4 linked regions of the Homo sapiens genome follow. The protein of the gene in region 1 purifies or fractionates together with the protein of each later gene. This does not show direct contact. Each region holds a gene or a part of one and is shown on either strand. Other genes may lie near its edges. The genes, in order: ZNF346, CHERP, FARS2 and KRR1.

Region 1 (7,643 bases):
CAAACAGCCCAATTACAAAATAGGCAAATGATGTGAATAGATATTTCACCAAAGATCTACAAATGGGTAGTCAGCCCCTGAAAAGTTGCTCAGTATTATCAGTCTTTAGGAAACCACAATGAGATATCACTACATGCCCACTAGAATGCCTATAATCAAAAAAGACAAGTGTTGTCAAGGTTATAGAAAAAGCGAAACCCTCATACACTGATGGCAGAAATATAAAAGGTGAAGCCATTTTGGAAAACAGTTTGGCAGTTCTCCAAAATGTCAGAGTTACGATATGACCCAGCAATTCCACTCTTAGGGATATACTCAAGAAATGAAATGTATGTTCACACAAAAACTTGGGCATGAATGTTCGCAGCAGCACTATTCACAAAAACTCCAAACTGGAAACAATCCAAATGTCTAGAACTAATGAATGGATTAATAGAATGTGTTATATTCATTCAATGGAATTCTATTTAGCAATAAAAAGGAATGAAGTACTAATACACACCATGACTTGGCTGAACTTCAAAAACATGCTGAGAGAAGCCAAACTCAAAAGACTACCCAAGACAGAAAACAGGTCACTGGTTGCCTAGGGCAGGAGGTGGGAGTGGGGATTTAATATAAATGAGCTCAAAGGAACTAATTGGGGTGACGGAAATGTTCTAAAAGTGGACTGTGGTAATGGCTATACAACTCTGTACACTGGCTAACAATCACTGGCGATATGCTTACAATGGGTGACTTGTATGGTATATAAATTGTAACTCACATGAAGGTGCTAAGAGTAGAAAAAGGGTGAGTAGAACTTAATGTTGTAGGTGTCTACCTAGATTTCACATAAATGTGGGAGAAGTGAGAACAGGGAAATGAAATGGGTCATAACAGTGCCACTATACACTCATATACACATAGCAGACAGTTCACTTTTCAGAGCACAGTGGTTTTCTGCTTCAAGATCCAGGGCAAAGGTCACTTTCTTCTTGTGCACCTCCAACTCTTAAAACATTCCTCAGCACTGCATCCTTTACATTACACTGGAACTGTTTTGGTGTCTGCTTCCTGGACTAGACTGCAAGCCTTTCCAGGGCAAGGGCAGTATCTTCCTCTGATACTCCAGCTCTGAAGCTCAACCAGTTCCGGGTCCAGAGCAGGCATCAGTGAGTGTTTGTCAAGTTAATGAAAGGAAAATTGGGGTAGGGGAGGAAACTACCAAACAAGTGTGAAAGTAGGAGAGCCGGGTGCGGTGGCTCATGCCTGTAATCCCAGCACTTTGGGAGGTCAAGGCGGGCAGATCACTTGAGGTCAGGAGTTCGAGAACAGCCTGGCCAACATGGTGAAACCCCATCTCTACTAAAAATACAAAAATCAGCTGAGCGTCATGGCAGCAGCCTGTAATCCCAGCTACTCCGGAGGCTGAGGCAGTATAGAATTGCTTGAACCCAGGAGGCGGAGGTTGCAGTGTGATTGTGCCACTGCACTCCAACCTGGGTGACAGAGTGAGACTCTCTCAAAAAAAAAAAAAAAAAAAAGGAGAGAGGGCCCCAGAAATAGTGTGTGTGTGTGTGTGTGTGTATACATAAAATACTTACAAGTGTATATAAAAATATATATACAGATTTATGTGTGTATATATTATATATATACATTTATGTGTGTGTATATTATATATACGCATACACACACACCATTTCTGGGGCCCTGTCTCCTTCTTTTTTATATATAATATACATTATATATATATATAAACTTAGGAGACAGGCTAGACTTGTTTTTAAATTGGAGAAGTATATACCAGGGTATAGGTCTGTGTACCTTCCTTAGATATGGTCAAAATTTCAATTTTATCCAATTTTATCCAGGGCAGTCAGTTCACAAATAGCATATTAAACTTTCGAAGACAAGTCTGCTCAGCAAGCAAACAAATCACTGGAGAAATCTGATTTCCCTCCAGATACCTGACAAGGTTAGCAGAGAAGCCCAGATAGAGTTCTTGTACATCTGGGTTAGCATCAAGCAGCTGGCTCTGTAAAGGACAGTGAAGGGAGTCACACAAGCAGGTCAGGACAGCTCTTTTCCATCCTTCTCTTTCTTTCATCCCATCTTACCCAGTCTCAGGTCAAGTGCAGAGCAAGCTGGGGCGCTTCGGCCCAGGAGTGACCCCTAACGTGGCTTTGCATACACTGTTCTCAGCAACTTTGGGTCAAGTGTAGGACACAAAGAAGCTGGAGCCAAAGCAAACCCAGACCAGTTTCTCAGGCTCCTTGTCCCCACCTTAGAATAAGGGACCCAGCAAGTAGAGGCCAGAGAGCTAAAAACGGGTAAGCCAGGGCTCAGTCATCAAGACCAGGAGGAACCCAGGGGGTAAGGAGAAGGCCTTCCAGAGCCCTCGGAAGTGTGGGGCTTGAGAGAAGGGAGGCGAGAGGCCCTAGGAGGAAATCTGGAGATTGGGACGATGGGGAGTCAAGGAGTGGTGAGGGGCACTCGGCTTGGCTTACCGGGATGGCAAAGACTGTAGGTCTCCGACAGGACGAGTATAGGGATGACAGTCCTCGAATGTGGGAAAAACTGCGCTGTAGTGAATGATGAAGGAGGAGGAGGAAAACCCAGGGCCTGAGCGTGAGCGGCCCTTCACCCTCAGCGCGCTGGGGGCCCGATTCTTGGGGTGCCCGCGCCCGGATGGGGAGCACAAGTCTGGGGGTCCCGGGGCGCAGCACGCAAGGAGGCGGGCCAGGGGGTGTGACCGTCGGCGCTTCCGCAGTTCCCCGCGAGCCGCGCAGCGGGCGAGGGGCTTTCTGCCTCCAAAGCCCCCGACTCACCTTCCTCTCTACCCACCGGCTGGGCACCGGACACGGCTTCCCACAGGCGGCGCGCCCTCTCGCGGTCAAAGCGCACCCCGTCCGGCTCCTGGCCCTCCAGCAACTCCGAGCTGCTGTAAGGCCCGGCCGCTCCGCCGTCCGCGGCCTGCACCGTGGCCGGCGCGGGATACTCCATCTTCCCCGCAAACCCTCACCGGTAGAGAGCCTCTCAGGCGCCTAGGTATCGCGAGATTTGGTGGGTGGTACTTGGCCCAGCCAACAAATCTCGCGAGGTTTGGGCGCTGCACCCGCGCTGCCGTGCGGGACCCCGCGCTTATTTTGCTTTGCTACCTCTGGTACCTCAGAGCGTGTGCCGTGGATTCGGAAACCTGTCGCTGATTCCGCAGCAGTGACCCCCCCCTCCCGGAGAGGCTCGTGTGGTTTTGGCTCATGGCTCTCACCTTGCTCACGGTCAGCCCTTGATACTTTTCATTTCGTTCTCAAGGTCCCGTTATGTGGGAGTGTTTTCGCCATTTCATTCACAGGGAAACTGAGGCCCAGAACCTAAAAATGGTTAACTCAAGAGCTCGCTACTAGTAAGTAGTAGTACAGCTAAGGTTCCATATTACTGCTAATAATACATACTATTTGTTGAGTTCCAAGTGCCAGCTCCCAGCTCTGATCTTCCCCGAGACTCCGGACCTGTATACATCCAGTTGCCTCTTCCACAGTTCACTCGAATGGCTAATAGGCTTCTCCAATGTAGCTGTCAGACCCCAAATTTTATCTTCCAACCCCAGAGCTGCTCCTTCCCGTGTCTTTGGGAGCCACCATCTCTTGCCTAGGTTATTGTAGTAGCAACCTCACTGGCATTCCCAGCACAGCAGTTCCAGGAATCCTCTTATGACAAGTCAGATCATGACGCTTAGGTTCTCAAATCCTCCAACAGCTTCCCATCTCACTCTTAGTAAAAGCCAAAGTCCGGCCAGGCGCGGTGGCTCACGCCTGTAATCCCAGCACTTTGGGAGGCTAAGGGGGGGCGGATCACCTGAGGTCCGGAGTTCGAGACCAGCCTGACCAACATGGAGAAACCCCGTCTCTACTAAAAATACAAAATTAGACGGGTGTGGTGGCACATGCCTGTAATCCCATCTACTCGGAGGCTGAGCCAGGAGAATGGCTTGAACCCGGGAGGCAGAGGTTGCTGTGAGCCGAGCTGGCGCCATTGCACCCCAGCCTGGGCAACAAGAGCGAAACTCCGACTAAAAAAAAAAAAAGCCAAAGTCCTTACTTCGACCAACAAGGCCCTGTACAATCTGACTTCCCTTAACCTCCCTGATCCTGATGTGTTACTCAGTCCCCAACTCCTTAATTCCTGTCCCAGTTATCCAGGCCTCCTGGGGTGAATTTCTCTCATATATCTTCATGGCTCAGTCTCCCACTTCCTTCTCTGGCTACTCTATCTAAAATACCTTGTCTGGCTATCCCATCTAAAATGTTACTTTTCCACACACACTTCATGTCCTTCTTTCCTGCTTTATTTCTTTTATATTTTACCTTTTATCTTGCTTATTGTCTGTCTCCCGACTAGAAGGCAAGCCCCAGGAAGGCAGGGATTTTTGTCTCTTTTCTTTTCTTTCTTTTTTTAAATTGTTTTTGAGGCAGAGTTTTGCTCTGTCGCCAGGTTGGAGTGCAGTGACGCGATCTCGGCTCACTGCAGCTTCCGTCTCCCGGGTTCAAGCAATTCTCCAGCCTCAGCCTCCTGAGTAGCTGGGATTACAGGCACATGCCACGGCACCCAGCTAATTTTTATATTTTTGGTAGAGACGGGGTTTCACTATGTTAGCTAGGCTGATCTCAAACTCCTGATCTCATAATCTGCCTGCCTCGGGCTCCCAAAATGCTGAGATTACAGGCACATGCCACCTTGCGTAGCCTTTTGTCTCTTGTCATTGCACCTGAATCTCCAGCACTTTGAAATAGAACCTGGACCCTCCTAGGTATATACAAAACATTTGTTTAATGAATGAAGCTTTTAATATTACTAGCTTATTTCAACCTCATTTTTTCAAATACTTATGGAGAATTTACTATGAGCTAGATGATATTTTGAGCATGGAAATATAGTGGTGAACAAGACAGGGAAGCTGTAGTAAAGTATTTTTTATTGTAGTGGAGGAGAGTACAATAAGAAAGTTAACAGTAGGCCTGGCGCAGTGGCTCATGCCTGTAATCCAGCACTTTGGGAGGCCGAGGCAGGTGGATCACGAGGTCAGAAGATCAAGACCATCCTGGCTAACATGGTGAAACTCCGTTTCTACTAAAAATACAAAAAAATTAGCCGGGCGTGGTGGCGGGCGCCTGTAGTCCCAGCTACTCGGGAGGCTGAGGCAGGAGAATGGTGTGAACCCAGCAGGCGGAGCTTGCAGTGAGCCGAGATCGTGCCACTGCACTCCATCCTGGGCAACAGAGCGAGACTCCATCTCAAAAACAAAAAAAGTTAACAATAATAAGTGCTAAGGAGAAGATAAAACAGGATTGCATCTCAGGTGAATGATGTGTTAGGAACATTAATCAGGGTGGCATCAGGAGAAGCCTCTGGGAAAATGACATTTGAGCTAAGACCTGATTAATGAGAAGGCGTAGCCATGCAAAGAGCTGGGCAAGAGTGTTCTAGCAGAGAGAACAGCAGGTACAAAGGCCCTGAGGCAGGAGAGAGCATGATGTGTTGGAGGAACAGGAAAAACGACAGCATGGCTGGAGCCCAGTGAACAAGGAGGAAAGTAATATCAGAGGAGGCCAAAGAGAGACAGATATGAATTATTCTTGCTTGAGATCATATAGCTCATTGGTGTAATTTAGTCATTTATACTACAAGTATTTCCTTATTTATACTACAAATATTGAGCACCAGCACTATGTCAGGCCTCAGGCCCTAGAGCTTCCAAGCTTCCAATACAGTAGGTGACTGATGTTTGGCCAGTGTTTTACAATTTTTTTTTTTTTATAGACGGAGTCTCTGTTGCCCAGGCTGGAGTGCAGTGGCACCATCTCAGTTCACTGCAACCTCCACCTCCTGGGTTCAAGCAATTCTCCTGCCTCAGCCTCCCGAGTAGCTGGGATTACAGACATCCATCACTATACCCAGCTATGTTTTCTATTTTTAGTAGAGACGGGGTTTCATCTTGTTGGCCAGGCTGGTCTTGAACTCCTGGCCTCAGGTGATCTGCCCGCCTTGGCCTCCTAAAGTGCTGGGATTACAGGCATGAGCTACCACACCCAGCCTACAATTTTTTTTTTTTTTTTTCCGAGACAGGGTCTCACTAGTGCAGTGGTATGATCATAGCTCACTGTAACCTTGAACTCCCACACTCAAGTGATCCTCCAGCCTCAGCCTCCTGAGTAGCAAGGACTACAAGTGGACACCAACATGCCCAGCTAATTAAAAAAAATTTTTTTTTTGTAGAGACAGGGTTTCCCTATATTGCCCAGGCTGGTCTCAAACTCCTGAGCTCAAGCGATCCTCCTGCCTCAGCCTCCCAAAGTGCTGGGATTCCTGGTGTGAACCACACACCCAGCCCAGGGCAGTGCTTTACAGTTTGCAAAGCACCTACATTATAGCATTTAATCCTCAGGGTGGTTTCTGTGAGGGATTTCTTCATAAGTGATGATAAAGAAACAGACTAGGAAAGGTAAAGGTTTTGTGAAGATCACACAGCTAGTTAGGTACGAGCCCATGCTTGAACACTGGTCCTTAGATTGCAAATCTATGTCCTTTTGCCAAAACCAGATGACCAGCCTAAAAGTCAGTGACTGCACATTATTTATTCTCTTTTTATTTATTTATTTACTTTTAGAGACGGGGTCTCACTATGTTAGCCAGGATGGTCACAAACTACTTATTTATCTTAAGAGTTCTAGTTACTTACACTTGCATATAGCATAAGTTATTCAGGGATAATCCAAGGGATACAGGGGATTTTTGTCGAAGTCGCAGAACCCACAAGGATATTTTTAATACTATGTAACAAATACTGGGAGTGGAGTATATAAGTTGCTTTGCATATTATTGGAAAACAACCTCCAATCCAATTACATGCTCAAAATAATGTCCATTTATTCTCCAATGAGTGCTGTCAGGGTTCATCCCCTGTGCCATGGAGGCAGAGTCCTGAGCTACCCTGCTGAGGGTCTGAACAGCCTTCATTGTCACCAGTTTTCTATTTTGTCTTTGTGTAAGTGCTTCCAGGAATGGCCCAGGCCTGGACTCCTTGCTGGGACCTGGCAGTGCAGGTGATGCCTTATATTTGTTGGGCTGGCTTTTTATTTCCTCCTTGTGGAAAATGAGAACCATTTTCCAACACATCCTACTGTGTATTGTTGCCATGGGAGATGAACAATCCCAGGGAAATGACTTTGCTAAGGGACGGGAACTGGCTACTGTTCAGCATACATTTCAGTTGCTTAAATACTGACTCTGTATGTGCATGTGTGTGCATGTGCAAACGAAACTATAGTGCTTAAGATATAGTTCTTGCTCTCAAAGAGATTCAACTCTAGTTTTTCTTTCTTTTCTTTTTTTTTTGAGACAGAGTCTCACTCTGTCACCCAGGCTGGAGTGCAGTGGTGCGATCTCGGCTCACTGCAACCTCCGCCTCCCAGGTTCAAACAATTCTCCGCCTCAGCCTCCTAAGTAGCTAGGACTACAGGTGTGCACCACCACACCAAGCTAATTTTTGTATTTTTATTAGAGACAGGATTTTACCATGTTGGCCAGGCTGATCTTGAACTCCTGATCTCATGTGGTCTGACCACCTTGGCCTCCCAAAGTGCTGGGATTACCAGTGTGAG
Region 2 (7,032 bases), on another chromosome or scaffold:
GCGGAAGGGTGGCTCGCGCTGGCCCCCGCCCCAGGGCGGCTGCTCGTGCTGGCTGTTCCAGGGGCCCTCGAACTGGCTGTTCCAGGCGGCGTCGGGCTGGTTGTTCCAGGGCGCGTCGCGCTGGCCGTTCCAGCCGGGGTCACCGCGCTGCTCGCCCCACATGCCCTCATGGCTGTTGTTCCAGGGGGGGCAGTGGGGTGGGCCGCCCTGGTGGTGCGGGTAGGGTGGCTGCTCTGGCGGCTGCAAGGGAAGGGACAGGCTTGAGCCCTGCGTGGTCTAGGCCCTAGTGCTCGGCAGCATCACAGCGCTCGGCAGCATCACAGCGCTGGCTCAGACCATGGAGGCGCTGCCCTGGCCACGTTGAGGCGCCTCCTACGCTGACGCCTGCGAGGATGCTGGGCACCTGCTCTCAGCCCGCACCACATGCTGCTGCAAAATGACCAGACACCCAACCGCTGCACCCGCATCTCAGTCCCGGGGCTGTTTCTGCCGCTGGGGCGCGCTGCACCCGCACACAGGCCGCCCGCGCCACAAGGTGCTCCCCGCTACCACTGCCAGACAAACGCCAGCTCCCTCGCCCCTCAGGGGCAGGTGCAGAGGCACAGACGGTATCGCTTCTCAGGGCACCCCAGGCACCCATGGGGCGGGGCTCACTCTGACACCCCCTGCCCTGCCTCACTCCCCCTCTCCCCAAAAGCCGTCTGCTGGGCAGATACACTGCGGCACACACATCCTTGTCCTGGGGTCTGCTTCTGGGGACTTTCAAACCAAGCCAGCATCTTCCTGTAGACTGAAGACGGGAGGCTCTTCCCTCATCAGCTTCTGCTCTGGAGACTTAAAGCCAGGAGGGCAAACTCCAGCTTGGGCAGGGGAGGGGAGGAGCACAGAGGCCAATGAGAAGGCCGGTGTCTAGGGTCACAGCTGGGTAACTGCGCTGACCCCTACTAAGGGGAGGCTGGCCCAGGCTGCCACATTCACCAGGCTTCCAAGAGAAGCCAGAGAGCCAGATATTAAATATCAGGAACTACTTGTTTTTCTTTTTCTTAATTTGAGACAGTCTCGCTCTGTTGCCCAGGCTGGAGTGCAGTGGCGCGATCTTGGCTCACTGCAACTTCCACCTCCCGGGTTCAGGTGATTCTCCTGCCTCAGCTTCTCGAGTAGCTGGGATTATAGGCGCCTGGCACCATGCCCGGCTATTTTTTTATCTTTAGTAGAGGCGAGGTTTCACCACGTTGGCCAGGCTGGTCTCAAACTCCTGACCTCAAATGATCTGCCCACCTCAGCCTCCCAAAGTGTGGGATTACAGGCGTTAGCCACCACGCCCAGCCTTGCTTTTCTTTTTTAGAGACAAGGTCTCACTCTGTCACCCAGGCTGGAATGCAGTGGCATGACCATAGCTCAATGAAGCCTGAAGTCCTGGCTGAACCAATCTTCCTGCCTCAGACCACTGTGTAGCTGGGACGACAGGTGTGCACCACCATGCCAGCTTATTTTTATTCTTTGTAGAGATGGAGTCTTGCCTTGTTGCCCAGGCTGGTCCCAAACTCCTGGCCTCAAGCAATCTTCCTGCCTTGAGAAATTACTTTTAAACGTGTTAAGACCCCACATGGCCAAGTCAAGCAGGCCAGGCTGCTGTTTCTCAGTGTGGACTGCAGGATGCACTGCTGGCCTAGCGGGCACCCTCAGTGAGGGGCGTGCCCATTGTCCTGAGCCCAACCCTCTGGTCTGCAAAAAGACTGAGCCTGGAGACACTAAGGGCCTGTTTCCACACCTACAAAACAGGGACAAGAACTGCCCCCCCCAGCAGAGGGTACCTGCAAAACAGCCACCACCATCTGGCTCCTGGCCAGCACTTGGAGGTGGGAGCTGTCTTTATGGGGGTGTCCAATCTTTTGTGAGGTTCAATTTCGTGTCCTGAAGCTGGGGATGGGAGGCTCAAAGCCACAACCACCAAGTCTCAGTCCAGAGCCAGTCTCCTTGCCATCCTTACACCTGTCCCTGCAGACAGGGAGTCACCTGGAAAGGCCACGCTGCGAAGCCAACCAGGCCCCACGGGCAAGGGGGAAAGTCACGCCCTGGAAGACCCGGGGCTGTGCCTCAGTGCTGAAAGTGGACCCAGCACGCTGCAGGGCATTTCACAGCCATGCTGTGCCACATAAGGTGGCCCCTGCCTTGGCCCAGGGGTATGTGACCCATAGCAAAGCTGCATCTGAGGCCTCCCAGGGGCAACACGGCTGACATTTCTGACATTCCCCCTTTCCTTACAAAAGCACCTTGTTCTTTCCAGGATGACAAAACACTGACACTCAACTAGCTTAACCTGTTTAAGGAGGACAGGAAACAGAACACCCTGCCGTGCCTTGCAGCGTTAAACTCCCCTGCACTCGCAGGACAATGGTGATCTATACTACAGAGAAGCCCAAACCATCAAAGCTCGGGGAAGGGACGTGAAGACCTGTCACTTGACCTGTCCCGGAGCCACAGGAAGACAGGGCTGTCACTAACCCAGCATAAGCTCTGCCACAGAATATCCCTCATTGTTCCCCAGTAAGCCACTCAACGCCCACCAACTGGCATAGGGGAGGCTACCCCATCAGGCCAAGTGTGCCCCATCTGCTCCCACCCCAGGTTCCAATCAATACCTGCTGCTGGCCCCAAGGAGCCACGGGGTGAGGCTGGTCAAACCAAGGGGGCTTGTTTGGTGGGATCTGGTCGTGTGGCCCGGGGCCCCGGGGGCCGGCAGCTGCAGGATCCTGGACCCCTCCTGGAGCTTCGTACTCTGAAGAGCCAGGCATCTGGATGGGAGGCTTGCTGTCATCTAAATCCAAGTGACAGGCAGTTAGAGCAGGCCTGGCAGCAGGAGGCGCTGTCTCCTCTCCACACTACCCCAGAGCAAACCAGGCTACCGCTTTTAGTGCCCAGTGGATGATCGCTTCAGGACCCACTAAAACCATGACTATCACTGGCTTCCAGGAAGGGGACAGGGCGAGGGGAGGTTTCGACCTTGAACATGACACACATCTGTCCTTTTCAAAGCTTTACAAGAAACAGGCCTCACTTCTGCCTTCTTGGTTTGCTGAAGAATTTCTATCCACACTGAATTTGATTAGACATCTTTACTGTATCTAATTAAAAGGTCATTTCCCCACATCTGTTATTTTCTATTCTATACAATCCTCATATTCCTACAACAAATCTTCTTTGATCAGAATGTAATTTTAAAATCCTTTGCTAGGCCGGGTGCGGTGGCTCACGCCTGTAATCCCAGCACTTTGGGAGGCTGAGGTGGGTGGATCCCAAGGTCAGGAGATCGAGACCATCCTGGCTAACACGGTGAAACCCCGTCTCTACTAAAAATACAAAAAAGTAGCTGGGCATGGTTGCGTGCGCCTGTAGTCCTAGCTACTCAGGAGGCTGAGGTAGGAGAATGGCGTGAACCCAGGAAGCGGAGCTTGCAGTGAGCTGAGATCACGCCACTGCACTCCAGCCTGGGCGACAGAGCAAGACTCCATCTCAAAAAAAAATCAAAAACAAAATCCTTTGCTAGATTCTGCTAAGATTTCCTTCAGTATTTCCGTGTCTTTTTCAGAAGTGACACTAGATTGTATTTTCTGAGACAGGGTCTCGCTTTGTTACCCAGGCTGGAGTGCAGTGGTGTAAATGCAGCTCACTGCAGCCTCAATCTCATGGGCTCAAGTGATCCTCCCACCTCAGCCCCCAAGTAGCTGGGACGACAGGTGAGCACCATTTTTCTATTTTTAGTAGAGACGGGGTTTCACCATGTTGCCCAGGCTAATCTCAAACTCCTGGGCTCAAGCGATCTGCCCATCTTGGCCTCCCAAAGTGCTGGGATTACAAGCGTAAGCCACCATGCCTAGCCAATTATATTTTCAGTCTGTGCATTGTCCTTCCTGCCTGATGTAATAGTTACCCTAGTCTTGGGGAATGATCTGGGTACCTTTCCTCTATTTCTTTTCTCTGGGAACAGGAAACAGATCTTCTGCTGTTCAGGAATGGGATGGTTGTAGTTTTACTCTAGGATCACCTGGCTCGTGCTTGTAAATGGATGAAAACCTGGGCCTAGGAGCAGGCCTGGGACGAGGGAACAAGAACTGAGTCTGAGGGTGGCAGACTGCTTTCTGACTACACTCGGTGCCCAGCCTCTGGGGGCTGTTTCCTGGGGGCAGGCTGAGCTGAGGGAGCCCCGTACCAGGCTGGGTGGTGGGCGGGATGGCAGGGGCAGGTGCTGGGGCCGGGGGTGGAGCAGGCGGTGGAGGCGTGGCCTTGACTTCAGCCTCCATCTGCGGCATCTGGAGCTGCTGCTGCTGCTGTTGCTGCTGCTGCTGCTGCTGGGCCAGGCTGGTGACAAACTCCTCGTGCTGCGTCTTGAGGGTCTGGATCTGCTGCTGGAAGGCCAGCTGCACCGGCTGGACCACTGAGGAGTACTCGTTGATGAGGGTGGCCTGAGAGAGAGAAGAGCACCCGCTGCTCAGTATGCGGCCTTGGGGCTCGCTGCCTGGCGCCAGAGGACAAACGCCTGGAAAGCAGCAGAGCCTGGGGGACCTGGGGCAGGTGGACAGGGAACCGTCACGTGAAACAGCCAACACAGTCTGGGCAATCAGTGTGCGCTGGGATCTGGCCAGAGATTTGGGGATGAGGATGTTCGCTGCAGCGTGTTTTACGACTCCCTGATAACAGAACGAGCAACGACAGCCGTGTCCTGGCCGCTTCGTGGCTGCTCAGCGAACACTGCCCACCAACATTCTGGGACACGCTCATGGGCTCTGCCTCCCACTCGCCATGTGGCTCTCAGCAAGAGGGGCTGCCACAGCCTAAGCCACGTCTGGGCTTCCTCATGCTTCCACCACACCGGAACATGCCTGACCACCAGAGCAAATGGGCCATGTGCAATGACTCCGAAAGGCCGCCTGGTTCTAGTGTTCCAGGAAAGTCAGGGAGACACACCTAAGGCCTGGGAAATGTCACCTGGGACTCTCTGGTCAACACACACTGGCTACTCCTAGCACAGGCAGGGGACATGGGCTCTCTGGCTGCTGGGGTGGCAGCTGCTGTCCCCACACTCCCAAACCCTCCTGGGGAACCCGCCCCAGCTCTAGGGTGAGGTGTGGGTGGGCAGGGACACTCACCTGGTACTGACCAAGCCCCAGGGCTGGGCTCTGTAGCTGCTGAATGATGGAGTCATCGAAGTAGCCGTTTTTCTCCCAGAGCTGCAGGAGCTGGCGGTGGGAGGAGAGAGAGGCCGGGTCAGTGGGGAGGGGAAAGGCCTGTGTGTCCCGGTCTTGCCCAACCCCCGGCCCGGGGCCCACGCACCCGGGCGATCTTCTGCTGCTTGTCTTCCTCCACGGCCAAGAAGCTGGTGCAGTAGATGGGCACCACGACCTTCTGCAGGGCGGCCAGCAGCTCCCGGGCCTGCTTGCGCTGGCTGTGAGGGAGAGACTTTCCGCGCGTCAGGGCCCTGGGGCGGGACCCGGCCACGCGCCCGTTACCATCGCGGCTCCAGCCTCAGCGCCCTCTGCCTTCTCGGGAATCGGGTCCCCAACCCGGTCAGGGCGATGGCTGGGCTCCCACGAGACCTGTGCTGGTGCCTGGGCTCGAGGAAGGGACAGATGGAAAAACAGCAAGCAGGGGAGGGAGAGAACGTGGCCTGGGGCCGTTCTGAGCAAGGCCTTTTGGTCCAGTCCCCTTGATAGGAAATAACCTTCCCTCCTTCCCTCTTGGGTGGCGCTGCGGGTGAAGGGATATGGGCCGGCGGGAGCCCCTGCCTGTGTATGATGGGCGGGATGGGACTGCTGCGGAGTGGGGGTCTTGTCCTTGTCACTCACTATGCACAAGGAAACCTCGGCCCAGGCCAGGCCTCTTGGGAGAAGGAGGGAGGGTGCCCAGTCCCTCAGGAACCTAGAACACTTTAGAAGAGTGACCGGATGCCCAGCGGGGGGAGGCGCCGGGCCCATGTCCTCTCAGGGCTGCTGTGCAGTGCTGCACAGGACACTGTGCATACCTGGCCTGGGAGGCCCCTGCCGCTGCGCAGGGAGATGGCTGCCCCTGGGGAGGGACGCAAGACAGGAGGGGAGCAGCTGGAAGCCCCTCAGCCCTCAGCTTGCCGCAGGGGGCTCAGGGGAGCAAGGGCCTGGGCTGGGCGAGCAGCACTTGGCTTCGGACAGAGTAGAGCTAGAGAGGCGCGTGGCTGGAGAATGCGGGAAACTGTGCATCCGTGCAAGGCACCCGACTCAGAGGCAGGGAGAAATGGAGGCATGAGGAGGAGCAGAAGGGCAGAGCTGGTGCCGAGCCGCAACTCACTTCCCAGCAGGAGAGAAACAGGGACTGAGGTGGGGAGGCAAGAGGGACTCAGGCAGTGCTGCATGTGATAGATGGGGCGAGATGGGTGCTGGCAGCCTGGCCCACTGTAGAGGCACACGAGGCGCCAGGCCAGGACTGCTGCCCGCTAGGCTCAGTAGCAATGCTTGTCTCCTCCCGCACGTGCGGGCCTTTGGCCTGGGGTTCTATTGTTTTTTTTTTCTTTTTTGCTAATTTTTGTGAGAAGGGCCCCAGTGACCCTGTAGAAGGAAATACCCACCCAACCTTGGGGAGGGTGGAGACAGCAACAGTGGGAAGGGTGAGGGCTGGGTGGGGACAGAGGGTCGGCAGATGTGGCTCTGTTGAAGCCTGAGAGATGGGTCAGGGCTGGAGAAGGGGATCCCAAAGGAGGGTCCTGATGGCTGAGCAAAGTCAGGTGACCGCGTGTGTGTGCGTGCAAATCAGTGACGAGGGCAGGAGACAGACACAGAGGCCAAGGAGGCCGTGGCTGAGAAGGCAACAAGGAGACGCCAAGAAGCTGCCCCATGAGAGGAAGGAGTGCAGGGGACAGTGGCCCCCAGGAGACAGCAATGTGACAGGTGAGGCCGGGGTCTAGGGGAGAGGACAGGGCATGCAGCGAAGGTGCACAGGACACCTAGACCTCGCAGTCCTGGAGACAGAAGCCTGGTGGCTCACAGAGACCCCCCACCCGGGGTC
Region 3 (7,032 bases), on another chromosome or scaffold:
ATATCTTGGCCATTGTGAATAATGCTGCAGTGAACAAGGGGGTGCAGATGTCTCTTTGACATGCTGATTTCATTTCCTGTGTTATATACACAGAAGTGGGATTGCTGGATCATATGTTAATAGTTCTATTTTTAAATTTTTTTGAACCTCCATACTATTTCCCATAATGGTTATACTCCTCTAAATTCCCACCAACAGTGTACAGTGGTTCCTTTTTCTCCACATCCTCACCAACACTTACCTTTTCTTTTTGGTAATAGCGGTTCTAACAGGTGTAAAGTGTATCTATCTCATTGTGCTTTTGATTTGCATTTCTCTGATGACTAGTGATTTTGAGGATTTTTTTTCACATACCTATTGACCATTTATATGTCTTCTTTTCAGAAATCTTTATTCAGATCCTTTGCCCATTTTTCTTTCTTTCTTTTTTTTTTTTTTTTTGACATGGAGTCTCACTCTGTCGCCCAGGCTGGAGTGCAGTGGCGCGATCTCGGCCCACTGCAAGCTCTGCCTCCTGGGTTCACACCATTCTCCTGCCTCAGCCTCCCAAGTAGCTGGGACTACAGGTGCCCGCCACCATGCTTGGCTAATTTTTTATATTTTTAGTAGAGATGGGGTTTCACCGTGTTAGCCAGGATGGTCTCGTTCTCCTGCCCTCATGCTCCACCCACCTCGGCCTCCCAAAGTGCTGGGATTACAGGCATGAGCCACCTCGCCCAGCCCCTTTGCCCATTTTTAAGTTATTTGCTTTCTTGCTGTTGAGTTGCGTGAGTTCCTTATGTATTTTGGACATTAGCTTTTTCCCAGATACATGGCTTGTAAATACTTTTTCCCATTCTGTGAGTTGTCTCTTCACTCTATTGAGTTTTTAAATAGTTCTTTACTGCCCCTTCCAAAGAGGCAGCCTTCTTTGTTTTGTTTTTGCTGACCAATTTCCTTCCATTCTTTTCTTTTTCTTCCTATTTCTCTTCTTCCCGCGTCTTCCACCCAGCATCACATGTAGTGCTAGATTATGGGCATACGATGATAAATATAAGAGAGAGAGGAGAGAAAGAGTATGTGTATATATATGTGTTTGTGTGTTCTACTCTCAAGAACCACACAGGCTAGTAGGAATACAGACAACAGCAGGTAGTAATAATACGGCATGCTAAACATTGCACATTGAGTGGTATTTGGGTCCAGGAAACAGGCCCGTTTCCTTCTAGATGTCTTTTCCCCTGACTTCTGTGCTGTGGCACCCTTTACGTCCCCTCTGTCTTACTCCTTACATCCCCTTCCCTTAAATATGATAAGTTCCAAGTATTCTTCTATCTTTTGCCCACTTATATCTTGCTCTTAGCCTCCCATGGATTCTTATATACGCTTGTGATATTAACTCTTACGTCTATGCAAATTACCTCCAAGGTCTACATTTCCAGGATTAATGTCTTACCTCATTTCCAAACTATAATATAACTCGAATTGCCTTACAGAAATTGTAATGTGGCTATCTCATTCATACTGAACTTCCATTGTCCAAATCTGTTTCCCTCTACAAAAGATGATCTGAACAAACAACAAAAATCCATTCTGAGTTCTCTGTGTCAGTGAATGACTTTATTAGTTCATCCGTTACCCGATCTCTAGAAATCTCTGGGTCACTTTTAACCCTGAATTCAGCTCATCTTACCCGTTACACACTGGGCAATGAGTTAATTAGCTGATGAACATGATCTAGTATAATCTTTTCATTATGAGATAAGTATTATATTTCTCTGTTTTACAGATGAGAACCTTGAGGCCAGAAGGGTCAAATAACGTTTCTAAGGATGATACATGGCACCTAAGAGATCAACCTAGGATCAAACCAACATTAGTATCTCTGCGAAGTCTGGCCTATTGCCCATTATATTGTATTTTCTCTTCTTATAGTTGGTCTGATTGTTTCTTTTGTACCAGTGCTAACATACTTCACGTCCACATTTGTATTCTTGCTCCTTTTTTGTGACTTTATAATCTACATATATTTGTGACTAGGAAGATTTTATTAATAGTGTAGAAAAATTTTTCAGTAGGTTAAGCTAAAACAGGGCTCAGCAAACTCTATAACAGACCAGAGAGTGAGTATTTAGGCTTTGTGAGCAACACAATCTCTATAGCAGCTATTCAATCTTACCTTGATAGCAAGAAAGCCATGGCAAATGATAAATCAAGAAATGGCTGTTGCTGTGTTCCAACAAACTTTATTTGTAAAAACAGACTATGGGCAAGGCACGATGGCTTAAGCCTGTAATCCCAGCACTTTGGGAGGCTGAGGTGGGCAGCTCACTTGAGGCAGGAGTTTGAGACCAGCCTGGGCAATGTGGCGAAACCTCATCTCTACAAAAAATACAAAAGCTAGCCGGGCATAGTGGCTTGCACCTGTAGTCCTAGCTATCTCTGGGGCAGGGAGCCACTGGAGCCTGAGACAGGAGGATCACTTGAGTCTGGGAGGTTGATGCTCCAGTAAGCCATGATCATCCCACTGCACTCCAGCCTGGGTGACAGAGTAAGACCCTGTCTCAGAAACAAAAAAAAGCCAAAGCCAAAAAAAAAAACCCCAAACAGACTACTGTGGGCAGATTTGGCCCTTGGGTCTGTAAATACTTATTTCATTTTTACTATCTAAGCTAATGTGTTTTATTGGATTTACTTATTCATGCATTTATTTATGTATTTAAAAACACATTGATGTATAATCTCAATTAGATAAAATAGAAGTTAAGGGAGGTCCTTGCAGAGATACCATTTGAACTTAACAATCTTGGACCTTTGATTGAGAAGTATACTTTCTTTTTTTTTTTTTTTTTTTTTTTTTTTTTAGTGAGGCAGAGTCTCACTCTGTCACCCAAGCTGGAGTGCAGTGGTGCAATCCTGGCTTACTGAAGCCTGAACTCCTGGGTTCATGCAGTCCTCCTGCCTTAGCTCCCCAGTAGCTGGGACTGCAGGTGTGTGCCACCATACCCGGCTAATTTATTAAATAAAATTTTTTTTTTTTTTTTTTTTTTGTAGAGATAGGGTCTTGTCATGTTGCCCAGGCTGCTCTCAAACTCCTGGGCCCAAGTGATCCTTTCGCCTTGGCCTTCCAGAGTGTTAGGATCATAGGCGTGAGCCACCACACCCTACTGAGAAATGCACTTGACCCCTGGACAACTGATTACCCTCCCTCAGTCAGTTGAAAATTCCTGTATACCTTTTGACTTCCCCTAACTTAACTATTAATTGTTAACTGGAGGCTTTACTGATAACATAAACAATTGATTAACACATATTTTGTATGTTATAGGCATTATATACTGTATTACAATAAACTAGAGAAAAGAAAATGTTATTAAGAAAATCATGAGGAAAGAAAATGTATTTACTATTTATTAAGTGGAAGTAGATCATCCTAAAGATCTTTATTCTTATCTTCATGTTGAGTAGGCTGAAGAGGAAGAGGAGGGGTTGGTCTTGCCTTCTCAGGGGTGGCAGAGGTAGAAGAGATAGGGGAGGCGGAAGGGGAGGCAGGAAGGGCAGGCACACTCAGTGTAACTGTTACTGAAAAGAATCTGCATGTAAGTGGATCTGCACAGTTCAATCCATGTTGTTTGAGGGTCAGCTATATTTGAATTGCCAAGAATTCTGAACTGTCTCATGGCTAGCTAGGCATATGAATTTATGCTAGTTACGTGATCTTTTTGAGCTTTATATTCTTTGTTGGTAAAGTGGTACGAACAATACTTACATCACAGAACTGTTGAAGGGATGAAATGGAAGAACAATGTATTAATAGAAGTATGAATGTCGTTGGTCTTATCCTCCTGGGTCTCTTATGTATTTCCAGATGATATATTTCTTATAGAGAAATTCGATAGAGGTAGAAGGAAAGGAAGTCACTTCTCAGATAGAAGTGGGAAGGCTCTCCTAGTCATCCATCTCTCTCTGTTAGAGATAGTAACAGAAAGGACAGATACTTTTCTGTGTGGGGTGAATGACAGTGGAGAATGTAAGCAGGGCTGAGCAGATAGATAGAAGGCCTGAAAACCAGGGCAAGAACCTCAAACTTTCATCGGCAAGCTGGGGGTTGCGTGAGGAGAGCAAGGAAGGGACACGAGGCTGGGGCACATCCCTGGGAATGGAACCCAAGTGTGGGTTTGGATGTGTGAAGAGCTGGAAACTGGGAAGGAAAAGCATCGACAGCAGCCCACAAATAACTGGATCAGAAGCACCTTTCCGAGAACAATTCTGAACTTTGTCTAACACATATGCCTTTGGGAGGAAGAAAGCTTTTCTTGTGTTTTGGCAAGGGTGCTGAGCTAGGTAGCTAATAACCTAACAGTTTGATTTTGTGCCAAGATGTGTAAGGCTGCATATGCATGTTTAAAATTCATATCCACTGCAGTGACAAGTCACTGAACACTAGATGGGAAGACATTTCAGTTGAAGCTCAGCCAAAAGCCCTTTTGAAACAACTCTGACAAAATAACGCCATAAGTGAATAAAACCAGAGAGTTCCTGGGTATCTTTGAAAATGTCTCCCATGATGACAGTCTCAGACAAAGGTGCTGTGCACAGCTTCTAAGAAGCAATCACACACAAGCACAGCCATTCAACTTGCAGCTAGATTTCCTCAGTTCCAATTTGGAGTCAGGTGGATTGTGTTGTCCAGGGACAGACTGTGCTTTTGATAGTGACTTGGAACAATATAATTCTTTGCTAATGCAGCTTCATATCATGAAGTTACATATTTTCTTGGTATGATTGCACGGCCCTTGAAGTAAAACAGCCACATAGTTGTATGCTTTAAAATAGCCCGGTAGGGAAGAATTCCACATTTTAGAAGATGGATTTTTATAATTTAAGTTTGTGAATGTAAATTATTTGTGAACAATGGGATGTGACATCTCAAGACTCTCCTTATTGGGATCCCTGAGTGAGTTTAAAACTGGCTTCTGTGGCAGTGGGAAGAAGACACTGTGTGAGTGGTTCACAGCCCTTTGCGGTTGTCTTATTGAACTCTTTCAATACCTTAGAGTTTTGCCAGTTATACTTAGGTCCTTCTCACCTCATCCGTGACTTGAACCGCCTATACTAGATGACAGCTGAGGTGACTTTCAGCTGTAAAGTTTGGCATTTTATTTACTTAAAAATCTAGGTCAGTGCTCTGCCTTCTGGCTGCTCTGTCACTCTTCCCCAACAAGTTTAGTCCTGTTTCTGGTTAATTGTGGGTGTGTAGTAGAAATTTGCCCTTTTGCCAAAGGTGTAATTGAGAGGATGCCACAAAGGTATTAAGTTTAAGTGACATGACCAGATGTGAGAAGATTTGCATTTACAGCTGTCCATTGATATAGTCTATCACTTTGTACAATATTTCCTGAGATTTTCTATTTTATCTTTAAAATATTAAAGTTAACCACAATCTAAAGTGGTGTATTTTGTTTAAAACTTTTTAAAAAAATTAGTAATGTCACTTTGTGATCTAGTGAAGTAATACAGAAGTTATGCTATGTCAAAGATAAAGAGAACTCTGTAGTTATGAGGATGGTCGGCAGAAATGTGAAGGATGGCTCTTAAATCTCTTCTCTTCCACTCTCCTTCGGAAGCCTCTGTCTAATCATTTGCTTCCTTTATTAGTGGGACCCTTAATAGGGTCCAATTAAGTTCTGTATTTTAGGGGATCTCTCTGAAGTTTTTTGGTTCTATAATGTAAAGGTTGTCGTGTTTACAGTTTTTTTCCACATCACGAGTTCAGGACATGATAACATAATAAACGAGGTTTTCTACAAAGCCAAGGATCTGAATGACAAAGGAAGGACAACTAGAGATTAGGGATATAAAAGTGACTTCCAGGAATCTTTTCATTTAGTGTATTAAGTATCACATGTCTGTCAGATTTCTTTAATTGGCTCTTTCAGCTGTGTGGAGGTCGTAGTGGGGGAAACATGCCAGTAGGACAAGAGGGAGCTGGTGGGAGATGCAAAGAACACACTTGCTTTCCACAGAGTGACACCTGACTTGTGCTTTGCCTGTGTGCTCTTTCCAGAACCTGTGAGAAGTTTCTACAATGGTGGGCTCAGCTCTCAGGAGAGGTGCCCATGCATATGTCTACCTGGTGAGTAAGGCCAGTCACATCTCCAGAGGCCATCAGCACCAGGCCTGGGGATCGAGGCCTCCTGCAGCAGAGTGTGCCACCCAAAGAGCTCCAGGCAGTGTGGTGGAGCTGCTGGGCAAATCCTACCCTCAGGACGACCACAGCAACCTCACCCGGAAGGTCCTCACCAGAGTTGGCAGGAACCTGCACAACCAGCAGCATCACCCTCTGTGGCTGATCAAGGAGAGGGTGAAGGAGCACTTCTACAAGCAGTATGTGGGCCGCTTTGGGACCCCGTTGTTCTCGGTCTACGACAACCTTTCTCCAGTGGTCACGACCTGGCAGAACTTTGACAGCCTGCTCATCCCAGCTGATCACCCCAGCAGGAAGAAGGGGGACAACTATTACCTGAATCGGACTCACATGCTGAGAGCGCACACGTCTGCACACCAGTGGGACTTGCTGCACGCGGGACTGGATGCCTTCCTGGTGGTGGGTGATGTCTACAGGCGTGACCAGATCGACTCCCAGCACTACCCTATTTTCCACCAGCTGGAGGCCGTGCGGCTCTTCTCCAAGCATGAGGTGAGTCTTGAGATGTTTCTCATCGCTGAAGGATGTCATAGACATTTTATGTTGAGGTCACTAACATTTAGCTCGATGAGACCAGCATAGTCATCCTTGCTTGCCTTATTTTGCCTTAGTGAATCATCCATACTTAATGACATCTTGTGTATAGGTGTGCCCCAGTACTTTTTGACCGCTTTGTTGTGTTAGTAACTACAGAAATTGGTAAGCCTTAGTTTCCAGTTGTCTGTCCTTATCCTTTCTCTCAATACTGACCCGCCATTCTCTGGGTTACTTCTTATGAATGGAGAATAGTCTGTGGCTCAAATTCACCTTTAATCCAGGATGGCTGAAGGTGCAACATGGAAACC
Region 4 (4,279 bases), on another chromosome or scaffold:
CCTATGGGCTCTTTCTCAACATAGTTTGTTGTTAAATGCATAAAATACATAGGATTATAAAGGAAACCAATTAAATTGAAATAGTTATCAAAATGTTTAAAACAAGATTTGTGATAAAGTAATATGTGCTTCTCTATTAAGATCTACCGGGGGCTATTAGTTTCAATGCAGTGATGAACACAAACTATATTTTGAGTTCTCTGCAGCAAGTGGAATGTGGTATGAAAATATCTGATATTTACAAAGATGATACTGCTAAGTCAGAGTCACGTTTATTGCTAATATGATGGTGGAGTGTTGTCTTCATTCATAATGAAAGGAAATGTTATTTTTAATAGAGGTTAGTGAAAATAAAAATAAAACTATTTTCTAATCAAAGTTTATGGTCCTCCTCTCCCCAGCACTCTACAATTACCTCCAAAGTTGAGAACTCTCACCTTAGACACACAACTTTATAACGATACCTTATTTCCAACCCCAAATCTATGTTCTTATCTCATTTTGCTCCAAATTTTAAGTTGCTTCAGAAATTTAATTAGCCCTCTGCTTACTCTACACCATGGAAAAAAGGTAATATAGTAGAAATTCTGATAGCAATTTCAAAAGATGTCCAAAATAGACATTAATCATTGGAATGTCTTTCATTGTTAATAAGCACAGTATTAAGTGGTTTAAGTTCTAGAATGATTTTAATAAAGTCATTTATGATACTTAGTTGTGCATTCCAAACTGTAAAGGAAAAGGTAAAAAATGCTACTTAAAAATAAGCTAAAAACCAAGACAGTCGGTGAGGTCTGTGGAAATGGTAGTATTCATCTTGGGAGAAACATGCTACTGGAAAGGCCTGGATTTGTCTAGATGGGAGTCATTAAGACTGTGGGACCTAAAGTATTCAGCACAATAAAGCAACAGGACATTTCAATGTTTTCCCTGGTAGCCTGAGAGAGAAGAGGGTTGGGGTTATGGGACCCAGGGGAAGACCGAAGACAAATCTTTAAAGAAAAAGATAAATATGGGTAAGGGTCCCTAAGGCAGTGACGGCCTAAGCACACTGGTACTATCTTGACTATCTTGTGGTCAAAGTTATTTCCTCTTCTGTGCTATAATCCTCTCCTCCACTAATCCACTCTGAGTAAAGATCTGTTACACACCATACCCTTGTTCATGGTGCCCAGGGGAAATGAAGAGGAGAGTATTACAGGCAACTGGAAGATTAAGCATCCCAGACCCCATTCTGAGGTATCAGAAATATTGAGGAGGATACTGGACTTCCTAAGATTATGTGGAATGGGGGCCTACAACTTTTTGTGTATAGGAAAATAATACCTCAGAGGGCAGAGGGCAAAGGGAAATGAGGACATTCCTAACTGGTCTCTCTGTTTTACCTTTTATGCTCCTCTAATCCATTTTCCATCCAGACTGATGTCCAAATTTAAAGGTCTCATCGCTCCCCTGCTTAATATACTTGAATGACTTCTTATGTAAACTTTGTCATGATCTAAAAGTTCCCGCTAGATCTGCAACTGCCTTCCTCCCCCCGTTTCATCTGTTTAGCAGACCGAGGGCACCAGTCTCTGTGGTTTAAACTTGCCAAACTTTTCTTCACGGAAGTTTTGCTGTTCTTTTCTCCACTAGACAGCTGTTCCAGAAGTTCTTATGTCTGATTCCTTCTCATTCTTCATGCCTAAGCTTAAATATAACACAAGAAGCCCTTCCCTGATTATTCTAAACAGGGGCCTTGCCTATTGATAGTTTCTATTACAGTATTATTTATAGTTCCTTAATTGCCCCATAATGATGCAGTTATTTTACTTGTATTTTTATTATCTGTTTGCCCCATAAATATTACTCTCATAAAGACAGAGACTGCCCTGTTCTCCTTTGGAGCTCAGTAAAACAAATATTTGTTGAATAAATGAATATTTGAAGTTAGTCTTTATGGAAGCATTATAACTTTGGTTGTAAGTTTTATAATTTAATATTGTTTATAACTCTGAAGATAAGTGAGTCTAAACCAGGAAAATTTACATTTATACTTTAATGAATAAAAATCATGAATACTTACAAAACATTCACTATTGCCAAGCATTATATATACCTAGTATTTTACAAAGCCTTCTCTTGTCACTTTCATAGCTACTCTAAGTGATGGGTCCTGTAACCCTGATCTATTGGAGGTTAAACTGAGATTCAGAGTTAACTTGTCCAGGGTCACACAGTAAATTAATTGTATCTTAACCATTAAAAATGTCATATGAGGCCGGGTGTAGTGGCTCATGCCTATAATCCCAGCACTCTGGGAGGCTGAGGCAGGTGGATCACTTTAGCCCAGGAGTTGGAGATGAGCCTGGGCAATATGGCAAAACTCTGTCTCTACAAAAAAATTAACTGGGCATGGTGGCATGTGCCTGTAGTCTCAGGTACTAGGAAGGCTGAGTTGGGAGGATTGCTTGAGCCTGGGAGGTTAAGCCTGCAGTGAACCGTAAGCGAGCCACTGTACTCCAGCCTGGGTGACAGAGTGAGAGACCCTGTCTCAAAAAAAAAAAAAAAAGTCATGAAAAGTTACCACTAACTGAATTATGGCTTTGTCTAGTTTTTTCTGGGTTTTCTTTATTTTCCAACTCTTAAGATATTAAGTCAAAGCTGTCATCTTCAGAATGACGCTTTGTCTCCTCCTTCACACCTACAGCACTCAGTCAGAGTATCGAGCATGTCTTCTGCACATTACACCAGGGAAATGGCTTTCTTTCAGCCAATCTCCAGGAATCCAAAAATTCAAAGGCAACAAATTAAAGATCATTATATATATTGCAAATGGTTAAAAACCTTTAAAATATAAAAACTTTTATAAATAAGAAAATCTAGTAGAAAAATGGTCAGCCCACATGATTCACAGAAAAAGGAATATAAATAGACAATTATGTGAAGAAATTTATAATTACTAGTAATCACAGAGATGCAAAAGAAAGCAAATGAAATGCCATTTCCATCAAATTAGAAAATACTAAGAAATTATAATACCTAGTACTGATGGTGAAATACAAATTGATATAATGGTGGAATGTAATTTGGCAATATGTACTTAAAACAAAAATGGTCACAGTCTTTACGTGCTAGTATCTCAAGGAATTATAGGGAAATAGAAGTGACTGAAGATACATATATGAGGTTGTTCATCATATATTAAATGAAAATATAGTGAACAATCTAAATTCTTCAACAGGATGGTGGTACCATCAAGAGCATGGACTCTGGAGCTAGACAGCCAGATCAAAGTCCATCAGTGATAGTCACTAACTGTAGAACTTTGGGCAGGTTGCTGACCCGTGTGTGCCTTGCTGTTCTCATTTGCCAAACAGGGGTAGTAATAGGAGCCATCTCATAAACTTCTGGTGAAGATTAAGTTAATATATGTGAAGCACTTTAACAGTGCTGAGAGCATTGTAAGCATTATATAAACAATCTATCATTTTTATGATTAAAATCACTTAAAATTTTGAAAAGGAAAATTTTTCACAGCATAATTTTAAGTGAAAAATAGAAAATGTATATTTTCAGTATGATCAGATTTCTAAATATGTGTATGACACAAGCACACATATGTAAGTTTAAAGAAAGTAGGAGGAAGGTGTTTGCCCTGTTTCCCAAAGTGGGAACTATATCTGTTTTAAAAACAACTGTCAAAAGTAAATGAAATAGGTTATATAAGTTGAGGAATCTGTTTTGCTTTGAAAATTGTGTAAAATTGCCAAGTTTCTAATAAACCAATAAATATAACATCAGTTCTTCCACTTTGTGGTATTACCATATACAATTTATGTCCCTGATGAATATTTTAGTCTTACCACTCTTAAAAATATGTGCGTATGTATTTAGGTAGTATATATAAAGGATGTACACACACACACACACCCTCTCTCTCTCCAAGAAAAATGTACCAGAATGTTAATTAAGTATATCTCTGGGCAGAAGAATTAAAGGTTATGTTAATTTTTTATTTATACTTTATCCAGATTTTCTATAATGAAGAGGAATACTGCTAAAATGTTTTTTTTTGTTGTTGTTTTTTTTTGCGGGGGGGGGGGGGCGTTTCCTATAAACCGGTTGATTCAGGCACTTACCCTGGTCCGTAGTTGCATATAAAATGTGCTCCATTGGAAAGAGCGTCAAAGCCAGAAACTTTAGGGCAAAATTGAACTGCGCAGCCAACTTTGTAACTATCTGCCCAAACAACCTGAAAGGAAATAAGGATTTTTAACAGAGAAAAACCATAAGATAA

Evidence for each region.
Region 2: the proteins of ZNF346 (region 1) and CHERP purify together in Homo sapiens (co-immunoprecipitation; 2 studies listed by BioGRID and IntAct, with this or other methods). This does not show direct contact.
Region 3: the proteins of ZNF346 (region 1) and FARS2 purify together in Homo sapiens (co-immunoprecipitation; 2 studies listed by BioGRID and IntAct, with this or other methods). This does not show direct contact.
Region 4: the proteins of ZNF346 (region 1) and KRR1 purify together in Homo sapiens (affinity purification with mass spectrometry; 3 studies listed by BioGRID and IntAct, with this or other methods). This does not show direct contact.

Annotation. Positions count from the first base shown.
Region 1 is NC_000005.10:177,018,084-177,025,726, reverse strand, and holds the start of ZNF346 (zinc finger protein 346), read right to left. Parts: upstream 3,032-7,643; 5' UTR 2,989-3,031; coding exon 2,814-2,988; intron 2,568-2,813; coding exon of another isoform or gene 2,493-2,567; intron 2,021-2,492; exon of another isoform or gene 2,008-2,020; coding exon of another isoform or gene 1,953-2,007; intron 1-1,952.
Region 2 is NC_000019.10:16,525,438-16,532,469, forward strand, and holds part of CHERP (calcium homeostasis endoplasmic reticulum protein), read right to left. Parts: intron 5,444-7,032; coding exon 5,332-5,443; intron 5,238-5,331; coding exon 5,148-5,237; intron 4,464-5,147; coding exon 4,211-4,463; intron 2,819-4,210; coding exon 2,643-2,818; intron 241-2,642; coding exon 1-240. UniProt on the Homo sapiens protein: Involved in calcium homeostasis, growth and proliferation.
Region 3 is NC_000006.12:5,362,504-5,369,535, forward strand, and holds part of FARS2 (phenylalanine--tRNA ligase, mitochondrial), read left to right. Parts: intron 1-6,046; 5' UTR 6,047-6,067; coding exon 6,068-6,679; intron 6,680-7,032. UniProt on the Homo sapiens protein: Is responsible for the charging of tRNA(Phe) with phenylalanine in mitochondrial translation.
Region 4 is NC_000012.12:75,490,361-75,494,639, reverse strand, and holds the end of KRR1 (KRR1 small subunit processome component homolog), read left to right. Parts: 3' UTR 1-3,777; downstream 3,778-4,279. Other genes in the region: GLIPR1 (glioma pathogenesis-related protein 1 precursor), read right to left, coding at 4,122-4,234. UniProt on the Homo sapiens protein: Part of the small subunit (SSU) processome, first precursor of the small eukaryotic ribosomal subunit.